3 separate regions of the Homo sapiens genome follow, and all the other regions are linked to region 2. Evidence: fine-mapped expression QTL. A gene starts in region 2. Each other region holds a variant in brackets. All regions are shown on one strand. Distances are between the middles of the regions.

Evidence for each region. PIP is the estimated chance that this variant, and not a neighbour inherited with it, causes the effect.
Region 1: its variant is fine-mapped to the expression of CAMTA2 in whole blood (INTERVAL, PIP above 0.99).
Region 3: its variant is fine-mapped to the expression of CAMTA2 in whole blood (TOPMed, PIP above 0.99).

The regions. Positions count from the first base shown.
Region 1 is chr17:5,065,317-5,075,744 of GRCh38, forward strand. It overlaps ZFP3-DT (ZFP3 divergent transcript), which reads right to left. Exons shown (of 2, transcript NR_186458.1): 2 at 10,362-10,428. Among named protein-coding and RNA genes, the nearest start is that of ZFP3-DT, 7.6 kb to the right of the region's middle. The variant C/T (reference allele first, on the strand shown) is at 5,442.
Region 2 is chr17:4,984,563-4,989,806 of GRCh38, forward strand. CAMTA2 (calmodulin binding transcription activator 2) reads right to left here and starts at 3,113. Exons shown (of 23, transcript NM_015099.4): 1 at 3,031-3,113; 2 at 1,630-1,724; 3 at 1,318-1,421. The coding sequence starts at 1,660. INCA1 (inhibitor of CDK, cyclin A1 interacting protein 1) reads right to left here. Exons shown (of 7, transcript NM_001394789.1): 5 at 4,866-5,062; 6 at 4,217-4,382; 7 at 3,568-3,992. The coding sequence ends at 3,843. It overlaps CAMTA2-AS1 (CAMTA2 antisense RNA 1), which reads left to right and starts at 3,182. Exons shown (of 3, transcript NR_187235.1): 1 at 3,182-3,663; 2 at 3,854-4,030; 3 at 4,125-5,244. RefSeq lists a silencer at 2,593-3,132.
Region 3 is chr17:4,881,465-4,891,892 of GRCh38, forward strand. It overlaps MINK1 (misshapen like kinase 1), which reads left to right. Exons shown (of 32, transcript NM_153827.5): 5 at 2,899-3,009; 6 at 3,448-3,538; 7 at 4,019-4,149; 8 at 4,447-4,501; 9 at 4,656-4,734; 10 at 4,987-5,162; 11 at 5,646-5,715; 12 at 6,116-6,326; 13 at 8,183-8,299; 14 at 9,053-9,271; 15 at 9,487-9,660; 16 at 9,992-10,252. It also overlaps the pseudogene RN7SL784P. Among named protein-coding and RNA genes, the nearest start is that of C17orf107, 13 kb to the right of the region's middle. RefSeq lists a silencer at 601-650 and an enhancer at 831-880. The variant AG/A (reference allele first, on the strand shown) is at 5,180.

The DNA of each region.
Region 1 (10,428 bases), 83 kb after region 2:
CTCTGCTGGTAATGCTGCTTTTACCCTTGTGGGATCTGGTGACTTTCAACAATTGCCCATTAGTGCTGGAAATGGGCCCAGATTCTTCCAACATTTTGGCACCAAAGACACTGCCAAGAACAATCTCAACTTCCTTGGGTCCAGCACTGTTAGGTCAAATTACATGCTCAATCACAAGTGGAGAAGAGTCTAGTTTTGAGCATCGGTTGAGTACAACTTTACAAAATTGCTGATTCAGGGGTGGCCCTATGGAAAAATAAGGAAATGCCAAATAGAGTTTAAAAGGTATGTCTAATGAGACAAGAAAGATGAGGAGAAGCAGAAACCCAGATGGATTTGAAATATCTGCAGGCTTGTCATGGTGACTCCTGCCTGTAATCTTGGAATTTTGGGAGGCAGAGGCAGGAGGATTGCTTGAGCCCAGGAGTTTGAGATCAGTTTGGGCAACACAGGGAGACTCCACCTCTACAAAAAATGCAAAAAATTAGCGGAGCATTGTGGCACACACCTATAGCTCCAGCTACTCAGGAGGCTGAAGCGGGAGGATCACTTGAGCCTGGGAGTTGGAGGCTGCAGTGAGCCCACATCACAGCACTGTACTGCAGCCTGGGCAACAGTGTGAGATTCCGTTTCAAAAATAAAAATAAAAGAAATATCTGCAAACATCTGCTCCTTACACTGGTTGCACACATACTTCACCTCAATTCCATTTGAAAGTCTCCCCTATTTTAAGTTTTCTAATATCCACAGTCAAGATCAACCAGTCTCATAAGTCAGTCATCTAGTTTCTGCATTTTGGATCTCTGACCTTCAGATATTATATAGAAATTGTGGACTCTAGTGTCAGCCATTGTTTCTCATCTAATCCTATAAAAAAGTTGAATTCAAATAACTATTGAGGCTGGGCGTGGTGGCTCACGTCTGTAATCCCAGTGCTTTGGGAGGCCGAGGCAGGTGGATTGACTGAGCTCAGGAGTTCGAGACCAGCCTGGGCAACACGGTGAAACCCCGTCTCTACTAAAATACAAAAAATTAGCTGGGCGTGGCGGCATGAGCCTGTAGTCCTAGTTACTCAGGAGACTGAGGCAGGAGAATTGCTTGAACCCGGGAGGCGGAGGTTGCAGTGAGCTAAGATTGCGCCGCTGTACTCCAGTCTGGAAAAGAGCAAGACTCCATCTCTAAAAAAAAAAAAAAAGAAAAAAAGAAAGAAAAAAAAATTGTGGACTCTAGTGTCAGTCAGTGTTTTTCATCCAATCCTACACAGAAGTTGAATTCAAATAACTATTGAGGCCGGGGGTGGGGGCTGGCTCACGCCTGTAATCCCAGAACTTTGGGAGGTTGAGGTGGGCAAATAACTTAAGGTCAGGAGTTAAAGGCCAGCCTGGCCAACATGGTGAAATCTTGTCTCTACTAAAAATACAAAAATTAGCTGGGCATGGTGGTGCACGCCTGTAATCTCAGTTACTTGGGTGGCTGAGGCAGGAGAATTACTTGAACCCGGGAGGTGGAGGCTGCAGTGAGCCAAGATCACACCACTGTACTCTAGCCTGGGCAACAGAGTGAGACTCTGTCTCAAAGAAAAGCCGGGTGTGGTGGCTCACACCTGTAATCCCAGCACTTTGGGAGGCTGAGGCAGGTGGATCACCTGAGGTCAGAAGTTTGAGACCAGCCTGGCCAACATGGTGAAACCCTGTCTCTACTAAAAATACAAAAATTAGTTAGGTGTGGTGGTGGGCGCCTGTAATCCCAGCTATTTGGGAGGCTGAGGCAGGAAAATCGCTTGAACCCGGGAGGCAGAGGTTGCAGTGAGCTGAGATCATGCCACTGCATTCCAGCCTGGGCGACAGAGCGAGACTTGGTCTAAAAACAGAATAAAACAAAACAAAAAACCAACCAAGAAAACCTATTGATCTAATGTGATGTGAGGGGCTCTGAAAAGTCAGCTGGCTACTTTGCTCTTTTTACCACTTTTACCCTGTGCCTAAAATTCCTGCCATTAGACTTCTGTGTTAAGGTACTGTTTCTTGAAGGTCACTGTTAAAATTCGAGGTAATCTCAGAAGACTTTCCATATAAGGATTTTTTTTTTTTTCGAGATGGAGTTTAGCTCTTGTTGCCCAGGCTGGAGTGCAATGGTGTGATCTTGGCTCACTGCAACCTCTGCCTCCCAGATTCAAGTGATTCTCCTGCCTTAGCCTCCCAAGTAGCTGGGATTACAGGCCTGTGCCACCACACCCGGCTATTTTTTGTATTTTTTGCAAAGACGGGATTTAGCAGAGATGGGATTTCATTACGTTGGCCAGGCTGGTGCTGAACTCCTGACCTCAAGTGATCCACCCGCCTTGGCCTCCCAAAATGTTGGGTGGCATGAGCCACTGCCCCGGCCCCATGTAAGCATTTGTCAGTCAACCTGTACAGACCATCTCTGGTCAGTTCTGTGCCACAGGTGCAATGCCTAAGGGTGGAGAACTGAGTGAGGAGATGGAAAATACTCTTATAATGGCTGGGCATGGTGGCTTACGCCTGTAATTTCAGCACTTTGGGAAGCTGAGGTGGGTGGATCACTTAAGGTCAGGAGTTTGAGACCAGCCTGGTTAACATAGTGAAACCCCGTCTCTACTAAAAATACAAAAATTAGCTGGACGTGGTGGCGGGTGCCTGTAATCCCAGCTACTCGAGAGGCTGAGGCAGAATTGTTGAACCCAGGAGGTAGAGGTTACAGTGAGCCGAAATCACGCCACTGCAGTCCAGCTTAGGCAACAGAGCAAGACTCTGTCTCAAAAAAATTAAAAAAAAAAGGAAAAACAAATATTCTCACAAGACAACGCAAGCTACAACAAGTCAACTTAACTCAAATGCTAAGAGTCAGGAAGGGCAGTGGAGGAGTGGTTGGAGTGAGAAGAGAGGACTCAAGATGGCTTTGTGCGTGTGCTTGTTTCGAATGAGGTCTTAAAGTAACTCAAGTATTGAAGCCAGCTAAGTAACCCAAACGCCATCATTGTACAGGGTTTTATTTTGGTAGAAGGGGGATGCTTTATGCACACATAAGGCAAATGTGGATTTGCTGAATGTTAGATTTGAAGTTTCCTGTTTTGACCATTAGCTGACTATGAGAAAGATTTCATCATAAAGAAGGGATCTTGTTGGAAGACTGAGTAGTTTATGAAAAATTTTTTTGGCTGGGTGTGGTGGCTCACAGTAATCCTGTTACTTTGGAGGGCTGAGACAGGAAGATGACTTGAGGCCAGGAGTTTGAGACCAGCCTGGGCATCATGGTGAGGCCTGTCTTTTTTTAAAAAAATGATAAATTAAATTAATTTTAAAAAATTTAATTGGACACATCTTGACCATTAGCTGAATAATGGTCAAAACAGTAGCAAGGCTGGGTGCGGTGGCTCACACCTGTAATCCCAGCACTATGGGAGGCTGAGGCAGGTGGATCACATGAGGTCAAGAGTTCAAGACCAGCCTGGCCAACATGGCAAACCTCATCTCTCCTAAAAAAAATAAATAAATAATTAGCCGGGCATGGTGGCAGGCACCTGTGATCCTAGGTACTTGAAAGGCTGAGGCAGGAGAATCCCTTGAACCTGGGAGGCAGAGGTTACAGTGAGCTGAGATCATGCCATTGCACTCTAGCCTGGGCAACAAGAGTGAAACTCCGCCTCAAAACAAACAAACAAACAAACAAAAACCTCCAAAACAAAAACAGTAGCAAAACAGGCCTGGGAATCTTCAGGGTCCCATAAAGGAGCAGAGGCAGATTGTGTGTTAAGTGGGACTTTAGGAAGGCTATCAGGTTGTAGTGAGAAGAGCCTGATGAGAAATCGGCAGATATAGGTGCAAATCCTGACCTCTTCCCTTCTTCTTCTTTTTTTTTTTTTTTTGAGACGGAGTTTTGCTCTTGTTGCCCCGCATGGAGTGCAATGGCGCAATCTCAGCTCACTGCAACCTCTGCCTCCTGGGTTAAAGCGATTCTCTTGCCCCAGCCTTCCAAGTAGCTGGGATTACAAGCATGCGCCACCACACCCAGCTAATTTTGTATTTTCAGTAGAGACGGGGTTTCTCCATGTTGGTCAGGCTGGTCTTGAACTCCTGACCTCAGGTGATCCACCTGCCTTGGCCTCCCAAAGTGCTGGGATTACAGGTGTGAACCACCACGCCCAGCCTCGATCTGAGTAAACTTTGACATGTCACTAAACTTCTGGCCTCCCTTGCCTGCAAATACCTTATCTACAGTTGCCATAGACAGTCTAAGCTTCAAGGGACTCTGACCATAGTTAACACATATGAGAGGATTTTGTAAACTATGTTGGGTACATATAAAGTTTGGATTTTTTTTGTTATTGTTGTTTTAAACCAAACTCAAAGCCTATATTTTGCTCACCTGTGTGAGATCTATACCTCAAGATTTCTTATATGGCATTAAAATAGTGAAATCAAAAACCATGGTTTGAATGACTCACTACTGCAGATGGTAGAGTGAGTTTGAATGAGGGAGGAAGGCCATGATCCCGAGATTTGTCCGGAGAGAGAATCTGTGGCTGTTGGCAACAGAATTAAGCCCCAGAAACAAAGGGACCCTTTATTTGAGAGAGGTCCTGAGGTATCATCACAGTTATGGTTTGTAGTCGCAGTGGGAACAAGGATAGCATTGTGGGCAGGTGTGTGGCCTAATGGAAAACAACAGTATGAAGAGTGAGTAACTGGGGTATGGAGGATGGCGTCAGCCCAAGGACAAAGGTGCATCACTGAGAAGGAATCTTGTTGGAGGACTGAGTAGTTCCCTGAAGATGTTTTTATTTTTATTTTTATTTTTTTTTTGAGACAGAGTCTCATTTTGTCACCCAGGCTGGAGTATAGTGGTGCGATCTTGGCTCACTGCAACCTCCACCTCCCGGGTTCAAGCGATTCTCATACCTCAGCCTCCCAAGTAGCTAGGATTATAGGCGTCCGCCATCACATCTGGCTAACTTTTGTATTTTTATAGAGACGGGGGTTTCACCATGTTGGCCAGGCTGGTCTCGAACTCCTGACCTCAGGTGATCTGCCTGCCTTGGCCTCCCAAAGTATCGGGATTACAGGCATGAGCCACCGGCCTGAAGATGTTTTTGATGAGCCACATCTTGAGCTGGGAAAATAACACCATGAAAGCAGAGTTAGAGCCAATCGATCTAACAATTGTGGTCAATTGATTGGTAACAAAGGTGCCAAGAACACACAGTGAGAAAAAAACAGTCTCTTTATTTTTATTTTTGACAGTCTCTTTAATAAATGGTGTTAGGAAAACTGGCTATCCACATGCCGAAGAATGAAATTAGAGCCTTATCTCGCACCATACCCAAAAATCAACTCAAAGTGGAATAAAGACTCAAATGTAAGACCTGAAACTATAAAGCTACTCAGGAGGCTGAGGCAGGAGAATTGCTTGAACCTGGGAGG[C/T]GGAGGTTGCAGTGAGCCGAGATGGCACCAATGCACTCCAGCCTGGGCGACAAGAGCGTGACTCTGTCTCAAAAAGAAAAAAAAAAGTAAAGTAAAGTAAATGTGAAGAAATAGGAGTTGTTCCGGCAGTCTTATGCTTTTCTGGTCACACTGGGAGCTTATGTGTCCCTATGATGTGGGAGACCCTGGGACTTGATTTTCTTCCTATTTTCTCAGAAAAGAGCCTCAGAAATATTCACATAGGACTGCCTTGACCCTGCGATGGCAAATAACGTCACTCATGTGCAAATTCAGACAAATAGTAGCAGCTGCCTGGAATACTGTGCTGTGTGGGGCTCTAAGGCACATTTGGGGATCTGAGAAGTGGACAAGAACATTATTACACGTGGCTCAGTGATGTCTTGCCCGTGGTGGCAATCCTGCCGATTATTTTGCTGACCTTGTTAAGACTCCAGATTCCTGGTGATGAGCCTCATATGCTGGGATGCAGCTTTCTTCTCCTTTGTCCTCTGATTACTTTTTCCCTATACCCTCTGCTGTTGTCTAGTTTCAGTGCCACACCACGCCCCCAACCTCAACTTTCCGCTCACCTTCTCAAAGCCCAGTACTGACCCCTCCTCTAAGCCAGCCTTTTCTTCTCTGTCTTCCCTCTCATGGTGGTTTTTGGGAGGCTGAGGTTTCTGGGTGGTGCTGCATTTCTCCCACTGTGAAACGGACGGTGGTTTCACCTAAGACAGACATGGACCTTACAGGACCCCAACGCACCTCTTAGGCTTAAAGAACTTGCCCAAGAAGGATCTGTCATCCAAGCACAGTAAAAACGTGATCTTGCTGGGTCAGGTTCAGAATTGGTTGCTCTGGCCTCCTTGATACAGATGTTCCTCAACTTATAATGGGGTTACATCCTGATCAACCTATCGTAAGGTGAACATTTTGTAAGTTGAAAATGCATTCAGGCCGGGTGCAGTGGCTCATGTCTATAATCCTAGCACTTTGGGGGGCCCAGGCAGGTGGATCACCTGAGGTCAGGAGTTCGAGACCACCCTGGCCAACACGGCAAAACCTCGTCTCTACTAAAAATACAAATATTACAGGTGGCGAGTGCCTGTAACCCCAGCTACTTGGGAGGCTGAGGCAGGAGAATGGCTTGAATCCGGGAGGCGGAGGTTGCAGTGAGCTTAGATCATGCTACTGCACTCCAGCCTGGGTGACACAGCAGGACTCCATCTCAAAAAAAAAAAAAAAAAGAAAAGAAAAGAAAAAAAGAAACAGGGTTTCATCATGTTGGCCAGGCTGGTCTCAAACTCCTGACCTCAGGTGATCTGCCCACCTCGGCCTCCCAAAGTGCTGGGATTATGGGCGTGAGCCCCCGCCCCCGGCCTATACTTCAAATTCTGAATTTTGATCTCTTTCCAGGCGTGGTGGCATGTGCCTGTAATTCCAGTTACTCAGGAGGCTGAGGCAGGAGAAGTGCTTGAACCCGGGAGGTGGAGGTTGCAATGAGCTGAGATTGTGCCACTGCACTCCAGCCTGGGCAACAGAACAAAACTGTCTCAAAAAAAAAAAAAAAAAAAAAAAAAAGAAGTATATTTTCTACTGAATGTGTATTGTTCCCGCACTGTTGTAAAGTCAAAAACTTGCAAGTTGAAGCATTGTTAAGTTGGGGACCATCTGTATAATTGTTAACTCCAGAGTAGGAAGTTGCTCCTTTGCTCTACTTCCTTACATCTTCACAGCTGGAGGTGTAAGGGGGAACACCAAGGATGTAACTGAACCTTGATTCAGCTTCAGCCAGTCACGTTACTGTGCAGAGGTGAGATATGAATATTTTTGTCCATCAAGTTTCCACTGAACAGAGGCCCAGCACCACCAGTGCCTCCTGCAGAACTCTCAAAGACATGTGACATGGTCCTGGACCTCAAGGACAGCTGTGTGTCTGTAGGAAATAGTTAAATCACATGAGGCAAGATTCGTCTGTGTCACATTGAGTGAGACTTTGGGTATGTAGGATGTTCTGTGAGGTTGGCCTAGTTAAAAGAAGAAAGGCAGGAGTAAGGAAGCAGCTGGCAGTGATAAGAAGCGGAGCCCGGGCGCAGTGGCTCATGCCTGTAATCCCAACACTTTGGGAGGCCGAGGTAGGTGGATCACTTGAGGTGAAGAGTTCGAGACCAGCTTGTCCAACACGGCGAAACCCTGTCTCTACTGAAAATACAAAAATTAGCCAGGAGTGGTGGTGCATGTCTGTAATCCCAACTACTTGGGAGGCTGAAGCAGGAGAATCGCTTGAACCCAGCAGGCGGAGGTTGCAGTGAGCCAAGATTGCACCATTGCACTCCAGCCTGGGCGACAAGAGTGAAGCTCTGTCTCAAAAATAAAATAAAATAAAATAATAAAATAATAAAATAAAAATGTAAGAAAGGAGTGCAGCCAGTGCCTGTAGCCCTCCTTCTCACATATTCTACAGATAGAAGAGAAGGGACAAGGGTGAAATAGTGCAGTGTGTCTTTGGTTTCTCCATGTGTTTGTCTCTGTGTGAATTCAGGAGGGTGGTCAGTGTTCCTATCTACCTTTTTTTTTTTTTTTAAGAGGAACAGAACTGCTCATACTCACCTATAAAGCCAATTCTGTGGAAGTCCTGAACCTGTTAGTAGACCGTGAAACATCAGCCCCTGCCCAGTCATACACATCCTCATACAGGCTGAAAGTGGGAACAGTATTTACAAACCATATGTCCTTGTCTCCTTCACTCAGTAGATTCCTATTACTCCAGGTGGCACCTAGGTTGGCTAGTGTAATAAAGCAGACGGTGGGCCAGGCGTGGTAGCTCACGGCTGTAATCCCAGCACTTTGGGAGGCCGAGGTGGGCGGATCACCTGAGCTCAGGAGTTCCAGACAAGCCTGACTAACATGGAGAAACCCTGTCTCTACTAAAAATACAAAAATTAGCCGGGCGTGGTGGCACGTGGCTGTATTCCCAGCTACTCAGGAGGCTGAGGCAGGAGAATCGCTTGAACCTCGGAGGTGGAGGTTGCGGTGAGCCAAGATCACGCCATTGCACTCCAGCCTGAGCGACAAGAGCAAGACTCCATCTCAAAAAACAAAACAAAATAAAATAAAATAAAGCAAACGGTGAGCCGGGGAGTGGCTGAGAGGAGACAACTTATCCTTTTCCTTCCTAACTCACACACAAGCGCAGGTCAGATTAAGCACTGCCAAAGCTGGGGCCAATGATTCTCAAACTTTATTGTGCATCAGAGCCATGAAGTGTTGTTAAAACACACATTTCTGGGCCGGGCTTGGTGGCTCACACCTGTAATCCTGGCACTTTGGGAGGCCGAGGCAGGTGGATCACCTGAGGACAGGAGATCAAGACCAGCCTGGCCAATACGGTGAAACCCCATCTCTACTAAAAGTACAAAAATTAGCCAGGTGTGGTGGTGCATACTTATAATCCCAGCTACTCGGGAGGCTGAGGCAGGAGAATCACTTGAACCCAGGAGGCGGAGGTTGTGGTGAGCTGAGATGGCACCACTGCACCCCAGCCTGGGCGACAGAGTGGACTCCATCTCAAAAAACAACAGCCACCAAACCAAACAAAACAAAACAAAAAAGCCACAACACATTTCTGAGCTCCAACTCCAGAGTTTCTGATTTAGAAGATCTGTGGGTGGGGCCTAAGAATTTTCATTTCTAACAAGTCCCCAGGTGATGCTAATGCTGCTGGTTTAGAGACCACACTTTGAGAACCATTGGCCTATGCTATTGGTTTTCAACCATGGCTGTAGGTCAGAATTACCTGGAAAGTTAAAAGCAAAACAATCCACGTCCAGATCTTTTTTCAGATCAATTTCAACAGAGTCTATGTGGGAGGCACCAGACAGCCATGATTTTAGACCCCAGGTGATTCCAATGTGCAGTCAAGTGTAGGGGTGGGTTGCCCCTCCACACCTGTGGGTGTTTCTCGTAAGGTGGAACGAGAGACTTAGGAAAGAAAAAGACACAGAGACAAAGTATAGAGAAAGAAATAAGGGGACCCAGGGAACCAGCGTTCAGCATATGGAGGATCCCGCCAGCCTCTGAGTTCCCTTAGTATTTATTGATCATTTGTGGGTGTTTCTCGAAGAGGGGGATGTGTCAGGGTCACAAGACAATTGTGGGGAGAGGGTCAGCAGACAAACACGTGAACAAAGGTCTTTGCATCATAGACAATGTAAAGGATTAAGTGCTGTGCTTTTAGATATGCATACACATAAACATCTCAATGCTTTACAAAGCAGTATTGCTGCCCGCAGGTCCCACTCCAGCCCTAAGGCAGTTTTTCCCTATCTCAGTAGATGGAGCATACAATCGGGTTTTATACCGAGACATTCCATTGCCCAGGGACAGGCAGGAGACAGATGCCTTCCTCTTGTCTCAACTGCAAGAGGCATTCCTTCCTCTTATACTAATCCTCCTCAGCACAGACCCTTTACGGGTGTCGGGCTGGGGGATGGTCAGGTCTTTCCCTTCCCACGAGGCCATATTTCAGACTACCACATGGGGAGAAACCTTGGACAATACCTGGCTTTCCTAGGCAGAGGTCCCTGCGGCCTTCCGCAGTTTTTGTGTCCCTGGGTACTTGAGATTAGGGAGTGGTGATGACTCTTAAGGAGCATGCTGCCTTCAGGCATCTGTTTAACAAAGCACATCTTGCACCGCCCTTAATCCATTCAACTCTGAGTTGACACAGCACATGTTTCAGAGAGCACGGGGTTGGGGGTAAGGTTATAGATTAACAGAATCTCAAGGCAGAAGAATTTTTCTTAGTACAGAACAAAATGGAGTCTCCTATGTCTACTTCTTTCTACACAGACACAGTAACAATCTGATCTCTCTTGCTTTTCCCCACAGTCAAGGTTGAGAATCACGATTTAGGCTCTTGAGGCAGACACCCATTAATGCAGGTGTACTAGATAAAGCTCAGTAAAACCAAATATCTTCCACCCTT
Region 2 (5,244 bases):
TACACACATACACGCATCGTTTTACTGACAGTCCTCTTCTGACATCAAATTGATAAATATCAACAACCAACTACATACAAGGCAGTAAGTATGCAGAATACAGAAAATGTGTAACACAAGGACTGTGCCTCCTCCAGAAAGAGCCAGTATCAGTGGTGGTTAATAACAAAGGTTCCAGCCGGGCGTGGTGGCTCATGCCTGTAATCCTAGCACTGTAGGAGGCCGAGATGGGCGGATCACTAGGTCTAGAGTTCGAGACCAGCCTGGCCAACATAGTGAAACCCCATCTCTACTAAAAATACAAAAATTAGCCAGGTGTGGTGGCGTGCCTGTAGTCCCAGCTACTCCGGAGGCTGAGGCAGGAGAATGGCGTAAACCTGGGAGGCAGAGCTTGCAGTGAGCCGAGATCGCGCCACTGCACTCCAGCCTGGGCGACAGAGCGAGACTCCATCTCAAAAAAAAAACAAACAAAAATTAGCCGGGCGTGGAGGCACATGCCTGTAATCCCAGCTACTTGGGAGGCTGAGGCAGGGGAATCACTTGAATCCAGGAGGCGGGGGTTGCAGTGAGCCAAGATCGCGCCATTGTACTCCAGCCTGGGCAACAAGAGCGAGACTCCGTCTCAAAAAAAAAGGCCCTGGAGTAAGTTAGATAAACTATGAGGTAAATCAGTTTCCTCATCAATAACATAGGAGCAATAACAGGGCTTGCTCTATAGAACCGTTAGAGGATTAAATGAGACAAGGCAGGCCAAATGTTTAGCACGGTGCCCAGTATGTAAGGAATACTTTACTGGCAGTAGCTTTTGTTTTTACCCAGGTGGCTATGCCACAGAAAAGAGGGCTCCTTCAAGATCCATGTCTTTTTGTTTTTGTTTTTGAGACGGAGTCTCACTCTGTCACCCAGGCTGGAGTGCAGTGGCGTGATCTCAGCTCACTGCAGCCTCCGCCTCCCTGGCTCAAGTAATTCTCCCGCCTCAGCCTCTCGAGTAGCTGGGATTACAGGCGTACATCACCACGCCTGGCTGCTTTTTGTATTTTTAGTAGAGACGGGGTTCCACCATGTTTGCCAGGCTGGTCTTGAACTCCTGACCTCAGATGATCCACCCGCCTCAGCCTCCCAAAGTGCTGGGATTACAGGCATGAGCCACCATGCCCGGCCAAGATCCATGTTTTTATACCTCTCCTAGGATCCCCAAAGAGCTTAGAATGGTGCTCTGCACTTAGGAGTGTTGACAGACACGGAAAGACCCCCCACTCACCCTCCTCCAGCCTACTAGGTCTTGCTGGGCCCCAACCCCCAGCCTCCCTAGAAAACCTCATTTGTATTCCACCGTAGCCTCTCTGGAGGCAGCAGCGGGCAGCGAGGAAGACACTCCAGCAGCTTCTTGGGGAGAAAGATCTTCAGGTGGTGGCTGTTTTCTAAAGGGAATTAGAAGGGAGGGTTTAGTGTGCTACCCTGGGGCATCCCTGTGATAGTCCAAGGGGAAAGGGCTGAAGGCAATACAGAGCACTGGGGAAAACTGAAACCTCACTAAGGAGAACAGAAAATCCAAGAATTAGAGGGCCACTAAAGCGTGGGGAGAACGAAAGGCTGTGGCCACATTGGGAACCTGGTTTGTGAACTTACCAGCAACCTCGGTGGTGTCCTTGGTATTCATGGTGAGGGCTCCAGGGGGCAAGGTCACCCCCGGCCTGAGGGGCCGGGGGGAGGGGGAGTCTGTGCTGGGAAGGGAGAGAACAAGGTCATGGCAGAAGCCCCCACATTAATCCAGGATGAGAAGTATGAGGTAGGGAGTGGGTATAGAACTGGGTCATAGTATCTGGGAAGGATGAGGAAAGGGAGGGAGGGGCTGACTGTGATGTGACAGTAGAAGAGAGAACAACACACAGTGCCCGGAGCCAATATGAGTGAGCAGACTGGACAGGAAGAGTGAGCAGGAAGAAATGGGTTGGGGTGGGGGAGCGGGGAGAAGACTGGCAGGGCTTGGGCCTCAGAGGCCCTAAACCTTGAGCTTTTGCACAGACTGGGGCTATGGTTGGGTCAGGTCCTGGGGGTTGGGACTCAGGCCATCCGGTCCTTGGAGGATGGTTTGGCAAGAGAGCCTGGATCCTGGGGGCAGGGCAGGAGATTCTACCTCCGGTAGAAGCTAGGCCTTTAGAAGACACGCCCTGAGTTCCTTCTCTGTTTGATTTTTCCAAGGGGAAGGGCAGATCTGATAACTGAACCTAACCTATTCTCTCCTCCAGGTTGGTTAGGACCTGATAGAATCTGGGCCAGACACCCAGATTCCCACCCTCAGGACAACCCACCCTCCGGCTGACAGCCCTCTCTACGTAGCTCCCTCTCCCCAAACGCCTCTGCCTCCCCTGGCCTCCAGGCCTAGCCTACCCCATCTACCGCTCTGGCTCCAGCCTGAGCCCCCCGCCCTCCTCGGGGAACAGATGGGAGCTGGCGGAGGCTCTCAGCACGGGCTCCGCCAGGTGTCCAGGATGGAGATGGGAGGAGGCCCGTCGGGCTCGGCTATGTGCAGTGAAGCTGGGGTTGGGGTAAGGACTCCGCCCCAGGGCGCAGGTGCGCAGTCCTGGCTAGGCAGCCTGCCAGGGTGCGGAGCGGGAGCGGGTCCTTGGGCTGCACTTGGGCGGCGCCGGATCGGACGCTTGGCACTCTGGGCGGCCCCCCGGCGGAGTGGTGGTCCCAGGAGAACCTCCGAGGTGGGAGGGTCCCGCCCGCATAGAGGGATGTTCTGGAGAAGCCGGGAGCAGAGTCCGCGGGCACGCGGTGGGCGAGGGACAGTGCAGGTGCCGGGTGCGGGGGTCTCCGGGACAGTCCCCGGCACGCGCTGGTCCGCCGTGGGGCCCTGCGGTGAGCGGCGCCCCCTGGCGCGGGGGAGGAGGACGGAAGCGGGAGGTGAGGGCGAACCGGGAAGAGGGACGGTGGTCCCTGGCGCGGCGCTCCGCGTCGGGACCTGGAGGAGCTGCGCCCTCTGGCGCGGGGGCGGAGAGGCGGGCGAGAGGCCCTGGCTCTTACCTCCCGGGGTCCCGCGGGTGACGGCGGCAGCGGCCATTCTACCCCACACCGACCCCCCCCAGCGCCGGCTGACAGCGGCGTCTAACGTCACTGCGCACGGGGCGGGGCCTCCCAATTAAGGGGATGAGGGTCAGGAAGGGAACCTGGGGTCAGCACACGTGGAGTTCTGGGTGGGGCGCTGGGCAGAGGGACTCGGCTTCTAGGGCTCTGAGCCAGGCCGAGGGACAGACTGCTGGGAAGTCCCCAAAAGGGCAGCAGCACTGAGGGGCAGGATTCCAGGGTCCTGGAGGCGGAAGCTCGGCCGACTGACTCCCAGTTCGAGAGAACGGGGCGGGGGCAGCCCACCAGTGCTGGAACCCGAGGGGCCGGGCGAGGAACGCTGGACTGGGAGCAGGACCCTTCTCGCCTCGGACAAGACTCCTTGTCTGGGGACCCAGCCCGACTTCATTGTAGCTGGGTCCTCGAGAAAGCGAAAGGAGCCCTCCTTCCCCATTGGCCTCTCCATCGCTGCATCCCAAGAAGAAAGACAACTCGGGCTCCACTTGCTTGCTTTTTAATAACAGAGCAGAGAGAATACAAGGCCAGGAGCGGGGCCTGGAGGAAAACAGGACTTGGGGTGCTCCTGTGAGAGCGGTGGGTTGAGATGGGAGCCCACGGGGGCTGTTAATGCCTAGTTCAGAGGATGGGAAAGGCAGTTGGAGAGACGAAGGAAGGGGAAACGCCTTCATGTCAGCAATGAGGGTGACTCTAGTGACGGAACTAGTCTTGGGTCCCTGGGGCACCACTAGCCTCTCGGCATCGGTGGTTTCTCCTTACTCTTCAGACGCTGCCAACTCCATCCCCCAGGGATTGTGAAGGGGGTTCCTTCTGGCTGTGACAGTGCTGAACGAGGCCAGAGAGTGCAGCTGCCTGGAGGCACAAGCCTCCTCCTGATCCAGGGGGCTCCAGGGAGACCAAAGCAGCTGTCAAGATGAGAGAAATTGAAAAAGAAAATGGAAAAGTAGGTCTTCTTTCCAGATTTCCTAGTACCCAAGCTTAGGTACCTCGAAGTCTCTGGTTCTCACCTACGTTATTTTTGTTTCTCTCAAATCCAGCTCTCCAGCCTGGCTCTCAGCTTCTGCATCTCCATGCAAGACCAGAGACCCACATCACTCCCTCACTCCACCCAGTTCCACTCCAACAATACCTGGGCCCTGCCAGGAGTGAGAAAACGGTCCTCTTCCTGTGGATAGGTTGCTCTCTCCTCTTCCAGATCAGGGTATTCATTGGTGCTGGGGAATCCACAGCCCTCTTCGCCAAGCACCACTGGCTCAGATGCAGCCCCAGAGCTGCCCCACTGGGCCTTCTTCAGTCTGTGGAGACTTTAGGCTGAGGAGAGAAGTGCCTGGAGGCCAGGCTTCCTGTCTCTCCATTCTTCACCTTTCTGTTCTGAAATACTTCCTGCTGGGACTCCAGGGAGTTGTCATTTGACCTTTAACCCTCCACTCCCAATTTTCTGCTCCCCTCAGACTGAAGCATATTGTCTAGGAACCCAGAGGTGACCCCAACCTCCCCACTGTCCTCCAGTTCTATGGTTTGCTTTCCTGTCTTCAGTGATCTAGTTTCCACTCCTTCCAGCTCATGTGGCTCATCCTCCTTACTGCAGTTCCCTCCTTCTTTCCATATTACAGAAATCTGTTTCAATCACACCAAAGCCCACAGCTTCCTTCCAAGCAACCTCCCCTCAAAGCTCCCCTCAAACCTCCCCTCAAAGCTGTCAACCCCTTCCTTAGCTCAAACTGTTCTGCCCCCAAATCCTGCATGACTCCCAGAACCCAGATGTCTCCCTTCCTTACTCGTTGATGATGCTCTGACGCCTTCTTAGGTCCTCCAGGTGGTAAGTGACAGCCCTCACCCGGGCGGGGACTCCCCCAAGGCCCTGCTGCTGCATTCCTTCCAAACATGGCCTCCTCTTCTTTCTTCTCCAAAGCATTTCAGGGGGTGGGAGCTGCTCAGGAGGATACAGACCAAGCTGGGAGCAACCAGTGGCTCTCTGTGCCAGAGAATGGGGAAAAAGAGCTAGAAAGAAGAACTGGCTCTCTCAAGGGAGCTTGGATTGAACTAGGTAGGGAGTCTGGGGTCTTGGGAAGACCCCTGTGATCTCGAAAACATGATGACTGATTCATAGAAAGGAAGGCCTGGTCAGTGCACTGGTTGGGGAATAACAGAGGGAAG
Region 3 (10,428 bases), 100 kb before region 2:
CTTTGAGTGTTTTGTGGGGAGGGGTCCTGGCGTTTGCCCCAACCCTTCCCCTAACCAGTGTCTCACACTGTGCGATCGGCTCTTAATAAATAAATATAATCCTGGCAAAGGGGAGAGAGACCGTGGGGAGGCCGTCCATCCATTTTCCTGCCTTTGAGCACAGCTCCTGGGAAAGCAACAGAACCAAAATATTTGTGGGAGATAACAGGGCCCAGACCCCTCCCAGAACCCCAGATGCTACAGAGCACCCAGCCCTTCTGGGTCATCATTCAAAACAGAGCCTGCTGCAGAGCTTGGGGCCTCCCCCAAATTCCTCCTGCCTGGCCCAGAACATTCCTAAGAGTCATTCCCCTCCCTAGCCTGGGCACTGGTGCTGACATGTTCCCCCAGCCTCACCCTTTGTGGTACTGAGCCCAGTCCCTGAGGATGGAGCAGCAGGGAGTGTGGCAATGGCTGTCGGGAGTTTTGGCGCTGACGCCAGGTCTCCCCTCCCAACAGCCATTCAGAGAAGCACTTACTAAGCACTTCTGTATACTCTGTATAGATGAGCATGAGCCATGGTCCTGGCCTCCAAGGCCCTTTGGCTTTTTGGGAACACACACACTCATGCACACAAAGAAAGGGAGAAAGGTGACAGGGAGGTCTACCTGCCAGGTGTGTGTGGTGGAGATCGCGGCAGGCTAGAGGCATTAGTGGCCGGGCGCCCCCTTCTGGACCTGTTGGGCACAGGTCCTCCCCTCCTCTCACTGTGCTCTGCTCTCCAAGGAATAGGCACATGCAAATTACTTTTATTGCATATGCAAATATATGTGTCCACCCAACCTTTTCCTGCATTGGATGTGGCTTTTAGTGAAAACTTGGACAAGCATGCTGATTTCCAGGAAGACTGGTTGGAGCCATCTTCTCTGCCTGCGGGTCTCAGCTGCTCTCCCTGGGAGGTGCAGACCCAGAGCCCTCCTCATCTCCTGGCCTTGTTACTCTCTGTGCTGGAGGAGTTTCTCTCAGGGTCTTCCCAGGTTCCCTGTTGCAGCTGTCGAGGTAGACCCTATGCAATCTTTATGTCTCTAGCAGACCTAGAGAATCACTATTTCTTAGCCCCCTTTCTGCTTCTAAGTCAGGGACTGGCAAACTTCTTCTGTGAAGGGCCAGATGGTAAATATTTCAGGCTTTGCGGGTCATATTTGCTGTCCCAGCTACACGGTTCTGTTGTTGTACCACGAAAGCAGCAATAGTCAGTACGTAAACGAATGAGTGTGGCTATAACCCCAGCACCCTCACTGCGGTCACTCACGTTTCAATGTTTTACACTTTCACATGTCATTTAGGATTCCTTTTTTTGTTTTTTCCCGCAACCATTTAAAAATGTAAAACCCAGGCCAGACGCAATGGCTCAAGCCTGTAATCCCAGCACTTCGGGAGGCTGGGGCAGGAGGATCACCTGAGGTCAGGAGTTCAAGACCAGCCTGGCCAACACGGTGACACCTCGTCTCTACTGAAAATACAAAAATTAGCCGGGCGTGGTGGCATGCGCCTGTAATCCCAGCTACTTGGGAGGCTGAGGCAGGAGAATCGCTTGAACCTGGGAGGCGGAGGTTGCAGTGAGCTGAGATCGCGCCACTGCACTCCACTCTGGGCGACAGAGTAAGACCCTGTCTCAAAAAAAAAAAAAAAGTGAAAACCATTCTTGACTTGCTGACCATATAGAAGCAGGCCTTGGGCCAGCCCTGATCCAAAGCAGAAGTTCCTTTTTTTTTTTTTGAGACAGAGTCTTGCTCTGTCACTCAGGCTGGAGTGCAGCGGCGCGATCTCGGCTCACTGCAACCTCTGCCTCCCAGGTTCAAGCGATTCTCCTGTGTCAGCATCCTGAGTAGCTGGGATTACAGGTGCCCACCACCACGCCCGGCTAATTTTTTGTATTTTTAGTAGAGATGGGGTTTCACCATGTTAGCCAGGATGGTCTCGAATTCCTGACCTCATGATCCGCCCGCCTTGGCCTCCCAAAGTGCTAGGATTACAGGCATGAGCCACTGAGCCCGGCCCAAAGCAGTAGTATTTTGTTTTGGGTTTTTTGTTTGTTTGTTTTTTGAGACAGAGTCTCACTCTGTCACCCAGGCTGGAGTTCAGTGGCGCAATCTCAGCTCACTGCAAGCTCCGCCTTCCGGGTTCACGCCGTTCTCCTGCCTCAGCCTCCCAAGTAGCTGGGACTACAGGAGCCCGCCACCACGCCCGGCTACTTTTTTTTTTTTTTTTTTTTTAGTAGAGACAGGGTTTCACCGTGTTATCCAGGATGGTCTTGAACTCCTGACCTTGTGATCCACCCACCTCGGCCTCCCAAAATGCTGGGATTACAGGAGTGAGCCTCCGCGCCCAGCCATAAAGCAGTAGTTCTTAACCGCTGTAGGGTTTGGAATCCCAATGAGAATCTGATGAAAGTACTAGACCCTTCCTCAGGGAAAATGCATATACCTGCATCATTTTGTTTACAGTTTCAGGGATTCCTTGGACTCCTACTCTAAACCCAGCCCCACCCTGCCAGTTCTTTTCCATCTGTATTCCTTCTCCTCTTTTTTTTTTTTTTTTTTGAGACGGAGTCTTGCTCACCATGTTGGCCAGGCTGGTCTTGAACTCCTGACCTCAGGTGATCCGCCTGCCTCAGCCTCCCAAAGTGCTGGGATTACAGGCATGAGCCACCGCACCCAGCCTTTTTCCCTCTCTGTCTTGACTTGAGGAAATCCTGTGGCCTTTGTGAGGCTTCTGTGGCCCTTGCTCTCTAGCTCATACCAGTTCTAACCCCAAGGTCTCTTATCCTCCTCCAGGAGTCTAGCAGGGGATTGGGGCAGGGGTGGGAGGGCTTGTCTGACTGATACTTTTCCTTTCGGTACCTTCCTGGGATCCTAGCTGGTGATGGAGTTCTGTGGTGCTGGTTCAGTGACTGACCTGGTAAAGAACACAAAAGGCAACGCCCTGAAGGAGGACTGTATCGCCTATATCTGCAGGGAGATCCTCAGGGTGAGCTCAAGGCCCCTCCCCTTGTCTTCTCCTCCGCTACCCTGGCTGGAGTTTCTCCATGAGCAAAGATCCTCCCTGCGCTGGGAGGAGACATCACTGCCCTCTTTAGGGAGCAGCAGGCCTGATGCGGGTGGGATGTGGAAGCAGGGTCCACACCTTGGGAAGTCTCAGGCTGTTGGAGGAGACAAGCTCCTGTTTCCAAGCTCTGCCGCTTCTCCACCTGTAACCCTGCAACTGCTGGGAATTCACCTGGAGCCACCTCTCTGAGGAAGCTCTCCAGGACAGCTCAGCTTGCTTGGGCTCCTGGTGGAGAAGGTCTGCTCCTTCAGCCCAGCCCTGTCCAGACTGACTGCTCCTTGTCCCCTCAACTCACTCCCCACTTACTCTTTCCTACCCCATCCAACACCATGGCTAATTTTCCCTGCTCTCCTGTCCCAGGGTCTGGCCCATCTCCATGCCCACAAGGTGATCCATCGAGACATCAAGGGGCAGAATGTGCTGCTGACAGAGAATGCTGAGGTCAAGCTAGGTGCGCCGGCTCCTTCTGAGGCTGACGAGGACCTTTCACCTCCAGAACAGAGAATGAGGGGCCCCTTTTTCTCTCTGGTGGCTCAGGCCCAACTCCCTTCCTACTGGGGAGGCTCACTCCCTCCCCTTTCCCCTCTCCCCCTGGAATGCCCTGCCTCCTGCTGAAAATCCCTCAGGAAGCTCTTCACCTGTCACCTGTTACGGGCCAGGTGCTCTGCAGGTTGCTCTGGGGAGATGGGATCTGATGGCCCTCCTGCCTGGGATGCTGTCCGTGATCCTTTTACCTGGGTTTTTCTCTAAGATGCTGGAAGATGGAATCGGGTTCTTCAGGATGGTGGTGGGGTAAAGGAGGGTGCTGGGGTGTCTGGGTCGGGCCAGGACCACAGCTGGCTCAGGCAAGTCCTGTGTGTGCACGCAGGGATGTGAGGCAAGGGAGCAGAGGTGACTCCCCACACTGACCCCTCCCTCTGTGTCTTCACAGTGGATTTTGGGGTGAGTGCTCAGCTGGACCGCACCGTGGGCAGACGGAACACTTTCATTGGGACTCCCTACTGGATGGCTCCAGAGGTCATCGCCTGTGATGAGAACCCTGATGCCACCTATGATTACAGGGTATGGAGTGGAAAGTTGGGAGCATGGGGGCTGCCAAGGGCGGGAAGCAATATGGGGACCACGGGGCCTGAGCAGGCTGGGGAACAGAGGAAGGTCAGATGATGTTAGCAGTGAGGGGCTGGGGAACATCTTACGGCAAGGCAAGTGTGGGTGGGAAGATGGGATGGGTTGGAAGGCACTGCTGCAGGAATGGGTGTGGCCCAGGAAGGCTCCTGAGAGGCCAGGATGGTGGGTGAAGAGAGGTTGCAGGGCAGAGTTGTCAGGAATATTCACTTGTTCCTTCTTTCCCGTCTATAGAGTGATATTTGGTCTCTAGGAATCACAGCCATCGAGATGGCAGAGGGAGCCCCCCGTAAGTTCTGAGTCTGCCGGGAGTGGGAGGGGAGGGAAAGGAAGGGCCCAGAGAGTGGCTGTAGGGAGGAGGTGGGTCCTGGGACCCTGCCGAGGAAGGGTCCTGTAGCTCCCAGTGCAGTGAAAGGGACTGAGGGTGTCTCCTCTGTGTCCAGCTCTGTGTGACATGCACCCCATGCGAGCCCTCTTCCTCATTCCTCGGAACCCTCCGCCCAGGCTCAAGTCCAAGAAGTGGTAGGTCTCTGAGAGTGTGGGCTCTGGGAAGGAAGGTCCCTGGACAAGGCCATCCCCACCTTCATGCCCTCTGTGCTCAGGCTTGGATCTCACCAGAGAAGAGATTCTGGGGGGCAGAGGGCGGTGACTGGTGTTGGGATATGAAGACAGGAGGGACGTCAAGGTGGCTTGTGGATGAATGATCCACCCTCTTCCTCCTGCACCCATCCCTTCTGAGGGGACCCTCCCAGTGTGAGCCACCACTGTTTCCAGGTCTAAGAAGTTCATTGACTTCATTGACACATGTCTCATCAAGACTTACCTGAGCCGCCCACCCACGGAGCAGCTACTGAAGTTTCCCTTCATCCGGGACCAGCCCACGGAGCGGCAGGTCCGCATCCAGCTTAAGGACCACATTGACCGATCCCGGAAGAAGCGGGGTGAGAAAGGTCAGTGGGCAGGCTGG[AG/A]GGGGCAGGTACTAGGGGACACTCCAGCCTGGCTCCTCTCTGCCAGCCCTGCTCGCTCCTGGCACCCCTTCCTGCTCCCCTCCTTGGCCCCAGCTCTCCCTGTCCAAGGAGATCGTTCTCAAACTTGCAACCCCCAAGGGGTTTTCCCTCCTTTCCCTCCCAGTCTGAATCAGCCTTCCAAAGGAGGACCGGCCTTTCGCATCCTTACAAAAACTCCATGCTAAGCACATGTGTGTGCGAGCACAAGCACAGGCTCTGCCACACCTCAGCTGCCCTGGGACCCAGTCCCGGTCCTGTCCAGGCCCACACCTGAGACCCGCTGTCCTCCCATTGCCCCCAGGAAGTGGGTGGGGCCCCTCATGCTTGCCCAGCCAGAGAGACCTGGTTATCCCCACCCAAGGTTTCCCTAGCCCACGGCGGGTCTGGGGCGCTGGGTGAGATAACTGCAGTGGCCTCCCCCTGCAGAGGAGACAGAATATGAGTACAGCGGCAGCGAGGAGGAAGATGACAGCCATGGAGAGGAAGGAGAGCCAAGGTAGGCCTGGCAGGTGGAGTGGGGGTTGGGGCGGTCATCGCTGAGTGGGGGGACTACAGTGGTGCTTGGCTTTGGGGACTCTCAGCCTGGGGGTGGTGGGCACAGAGAGGTAGAGACTCCTGGAAACCAAATTTCTGAGTGCTAAGAAGTGGAACCAATGACTGAGCAAGAGCTGGGGAGAGAGCAATTTGTGGTGAATGTGGGGCGCAGCAGTAATAGGAAAGGAGGACAGGACTGAAGACTGGGCAGAAGGGGACGGTAAGTCTCCTGGCCACCTGGGAGTGGCCAGAGGCAGAGGCTTTGATCCAGTTAAAGCACCCACTCAGGCGGGCCCACGGGGTTGAGAGTGGGAACCAACAGGGTTCTGACCCCAGTGCTTCTTTGTGCCACCCCTGCCCAGCTCCATCATGAACGTGCCTGGAGAGTCGACTCTACGCCGGGAGTTTCTCCGGCTCCAGCAGGAAAATAAGAGCAACTCAGAGGCTTTAAAACAGCAGCAGCAGCTGCAGCAGCAGCAGCAGCGAGACCCCGAGGCACACATCAAACACCTGCTGCACCAGCGGCAGCGGCGCATAGAGGAGCAGAAGGAGGAGCGGCGCCGCGTGGAGGAGGTGGGCTGTCTCCGAAGGGCCCAGGCCTGGCGCGGCCTCCTCCTGACCTGCCCCGGGTCCATTAGGGCCTTGGAGAACAGGTTTTAAAATGCCTTAAATGAATGGCATTTCTGTTGAAACAATTATATGATTTCAAATTTCATGATGAGCTGGACTTAACACAAAATGTAATCCCATCACTTTGGGAGGCTGAGGTGGGTAGATCACCTGAGGTCAGGAGTTTGAGACCAGCCTGGCCAACATGGTGAAACCCCATCTCTACTAATAATACAAAAATTAGCCAGGTGTGGTGGCGCATGCCTGTAATCCCAGCTACTCCGGAGGCTGAGGCAGGAGAATTGCTTGAACCCGGGAGGCGGAGGTTGCAGTGAGCAGAGATCACACCACTGCACTCCAGCCTGGGTGACAGAGCAAGACTCCGTCTCTAATAATAATAAGCAATAACCCGCAGCACCCACACTGTCCACCTGCTACCTCCAAAGTAGGCCCTCTCATTGTTGAACAAAAAATAATTTGCAAGAAAACCTGCTACAGAAGAGCCTTGTGCAGTTTTGAAAATATAGGCCAGGTGAGGTGGCTCACGCCTGTAATCCCAGCACTTTGGGAGTCGGAGGATGGGGGCGGATCGTGAGATCAGGAGTTCGAGACCAGCCTGTCTAATATGGTGAAACCCCATCTCTACTAAAAATACACAAATTAGCCAGGCGTGGTGGTGCACGCGCCTATAGTTCCAGCTACTTAGGAGGCTGAGGCAGGAGAATCGCTTGAACCTGGGAGGTGGAAGTTGTAGTGAGCTGAGATCACGCCACTGGCCTGGGGAACAGAGCAAGACTCCGTCTCCAAAAAATAAAAAAATAAAATAAATATAGCGTTCAGATAGTATAGTAACAAAGTCCTATCTTTTTTTTTTTTTTTTTTTTGAGATGGAGTTTTGCTCTTGTTGCCCAGGGTGACGAGTGCAGTGGCGCACTCTAGGCTCACCGCAAAACCTCCGTCTCCCAGGTTCAAGTGATTCTCCTGCCTCAGCCTCCTGAGGAGCTGGGATTACAGGAATGCGCCACCACGCCCGGCTAATTTTGTATTTTTTTCAGTAGAGACAGGGTTTCTGCATGTTGGTCAGGCTGGTCTCGAACTCCCGACCTCAGGTGATCCACCTGCCTCGGCCTCCCAAAGTGCTGGGATTACAGGTGTGAGCCACCGCGCCCAGCCACAGAGTCCTATCTAACAAGGTGTTACCTGGAGAAGGCCTGCTGGCAACTTCATTGCAGAAGTAGGCACAAGTTCCCTCAAGTGTAAGGGTCCCTCAGGGTTTGTGCTTTTGTTGGTGGTGGTGGTGGTAGACTTCGTGAAAGCCACCACAGAAATACCGTGAAAGTAAAGTACCACCTGGGCACTGGTGCTTGTCAAGGAGTGGGCCAGGTCCCTCTTTTCTGTGCTTTCTGTGCACGGGCACCTGGTGCCCTCTTGTGGCCAAAGGCTATCACTACGACCCGCTCTATATGGACTTCAGGCAAAGGTCGATTTTAGGCTAGGAGTGCTGGGGAGGCTTGTTTTGAGTTCGGCTTTGGTTTGTTGTTTGGTGGGGTGTGGGGAGTGGAAGGTGTTGTCTAGCTAAGCCCACCCCACAGGCAGCAGTCAGTCTCACAGCCTCTCTCGTCACAGCTACCGGCTGTTTACCCGAGCCCAGCCCCGCGGGCCCTTGGGTGGGGATGGGTATAGTTGCAGAAACAAGCGGAAGCCGGTCTCTCTTACCACCCTCCGTGGTGAGCAAGGAGGGCTCCCCTCCCTGTCCATGGAGGGGCAGTGCTGACGCGATGTCCGGTATGGTTCTTAAGACCACCTGGCTCTCCCCACAGCAACAGCGGCGGGAGCGGGAGCAGCGGAAGCTGCAGGAGAAGGAGCAGCAGCGGCGGCTGGAGGACATGCAGGCTCTGCGGCGGGAGGAGGAGCGGCGGCAGGCGGAGCGCGAGCAGGTAGAGCGCCGCACCCGCATCCCTGCCCTCCCGCCCTCCCGCTCCTGCTGCCTGCCGCCCCTGCTCCCCGTGCCCTTCCCCCTTCTCTCCCCCACCCCCAGATTCCTCCTATCTTTTCTAGCTTCACTCTTTCTCTCTGTTTTCTCCCACCCTTCAACCCCAACCCTGACCCCCTCCCTCTTCCTTCCCTGCCTCATTCCCATCTCTTTACCCCATCCCTGACTCCCCGACCCCTTCCTCATCCCCCCTCATTCCCTGTGCCCTCTTCTTCCCCATCTGTGCCGCATGGCCCCCTGGGGCTCATGTCATCCCCTCCCCTACCTCTCTCTTACTCTTCCCCTGCACCCCCTCATTCTCCTGCGGATCCCTTCCTCCTTCTCCAACTCGCTGCTGCTGCCCTCCTCTGCCTCTTCCTCCTTCCCTGCCCTCTGCCCCCCACCCCACACCCCGTCCCCCAGGAATATATTCGTCACAGGCTAGAGGAGGAGCAGCGACAGCTCGAGATCCTTCAGCAACAGCTGCTCCAGGAACAGGCCCTGCTGCTGGTAACGGGTCCCTCAGCGTCCTCTGGGAAGATGCTTTTCAGAGCTTCTTTGCTGGAACGGGATGGGAACACTTCAAGGGAAGGGATTCACCCAGGACATCAAGGGAATACATCTCCTCTCTAGGCAGTTGGAGAAAAGAGAGGGCATGCCTGCTCTAACTCCCAGGGCCACACCCTGCTGAGCCCTCTCTCCCTACCCTTGGGCCCAGGAATACAAGCGGAAGCAGCTGGAGGAGCAGCGGCAGTCAGAACGTCTCCAGAGGCAGCTGCAGCAGGAGCATGCCTACCTCAAGTCCCTGCAGCAGCAGCAACAGCAGCAGCAGCTTCAGAAACAGCAGCAGCAGCAGCTCCTGCCTGGGGACAGGAAGCCCCTGTACCATTATGGTCGGGGCATGAATCCCGCTGACAAACCAGCCTGGGCCCGAGAGGTACTCACTGCCTCCTTTGCCTCCTGAGACTGCAGTCCCACTGCCTGAGGCCTGGAGAGCCACAAGAAGTAGTAGTTCACAGTAGCAGGCACCAAGTAGGGGAAAGGAGCACACAGCACAGAGCATAGGGCGGGAGTAGTTAGGGCAGGTGGGACCCTCAGTTTTGAGAACAGGGAGGCAAGAGCTGGCCTGCTTGACATCCCTTCACATCACAGGTAGAAGAGAGAACAAGGATGAACAAGCAGCAGAACTCTCCCTTGGCCAAGAGCAAGCCAGGCAGCACGGGGCCTGAGCCCCCCATCCCCCAGGCCTCCCCAGGGCCCCCAGGACCCCTTTCCCAGACTCCTCCTATGCAGAGGCCGGTGGAGCCCCAGGAGGGACCGCACAAGGTGAGTCTCTCCCCACCCCTGTCTTAATGAAGACACAGGGAGCTTTGTTCAGAGCACAGGTACACACACACGCGCGCACACACACACACACACACACACACCTGCTCAGCCGTGAGCCAGGATTACAGAGCACAGGCTTTGTGGACAGACTCACTCACCTGCTTCTTGCTGCCTGTGTCTGTCCTGACTTAGCTGTCATCAGGCTCAAGGAACCCCTTGTCCTTCAATGGAGGAAGGGGCAGCTAAAGTCCTTTCCCACCCCAGACCCCAATTCGCAGGTGGGGATGTGCCATGGAGCAGGCAGCCCACCCTCCCTGGTCTCTCCCTGCAGAGCCTGGTGGCACACCGGGTCCCACTGAAGCCATATGCAGCACCTGTACCCCGATCCCAGTCCCTGCAGGACCAGCCCACCCGAAACCTGGCTGCCTTCCCAGCCTCCCATGACCCCGACCCTGCCATCCCCGCACCCACTGCCACGCCCAGTGCCCGAGGAGCTGTCATCCGCCAGAATTCAGACCCCACCTCTGAAGGACCTGGCCCCAGCCCGAATCCCCCAGCCTGGGTCCGCCCAGATAACGAGGCCCCACCCAAGGTAAGGACAGTTCTGCAGGCCCAGGGAAAAGCAGAGAGCTAGTCATGAAGAGAAGGAGGGCAGTGAAGGGGCAGGCCACATGGAGGAAGAGTGCAGGGCGGGAAGCGAGAGAAAGCCAGGGCGCTGCCCTGCCGGGGTCAGCCGTCCAGCTGAGGACGCGACGTGGAGGGGTGGCA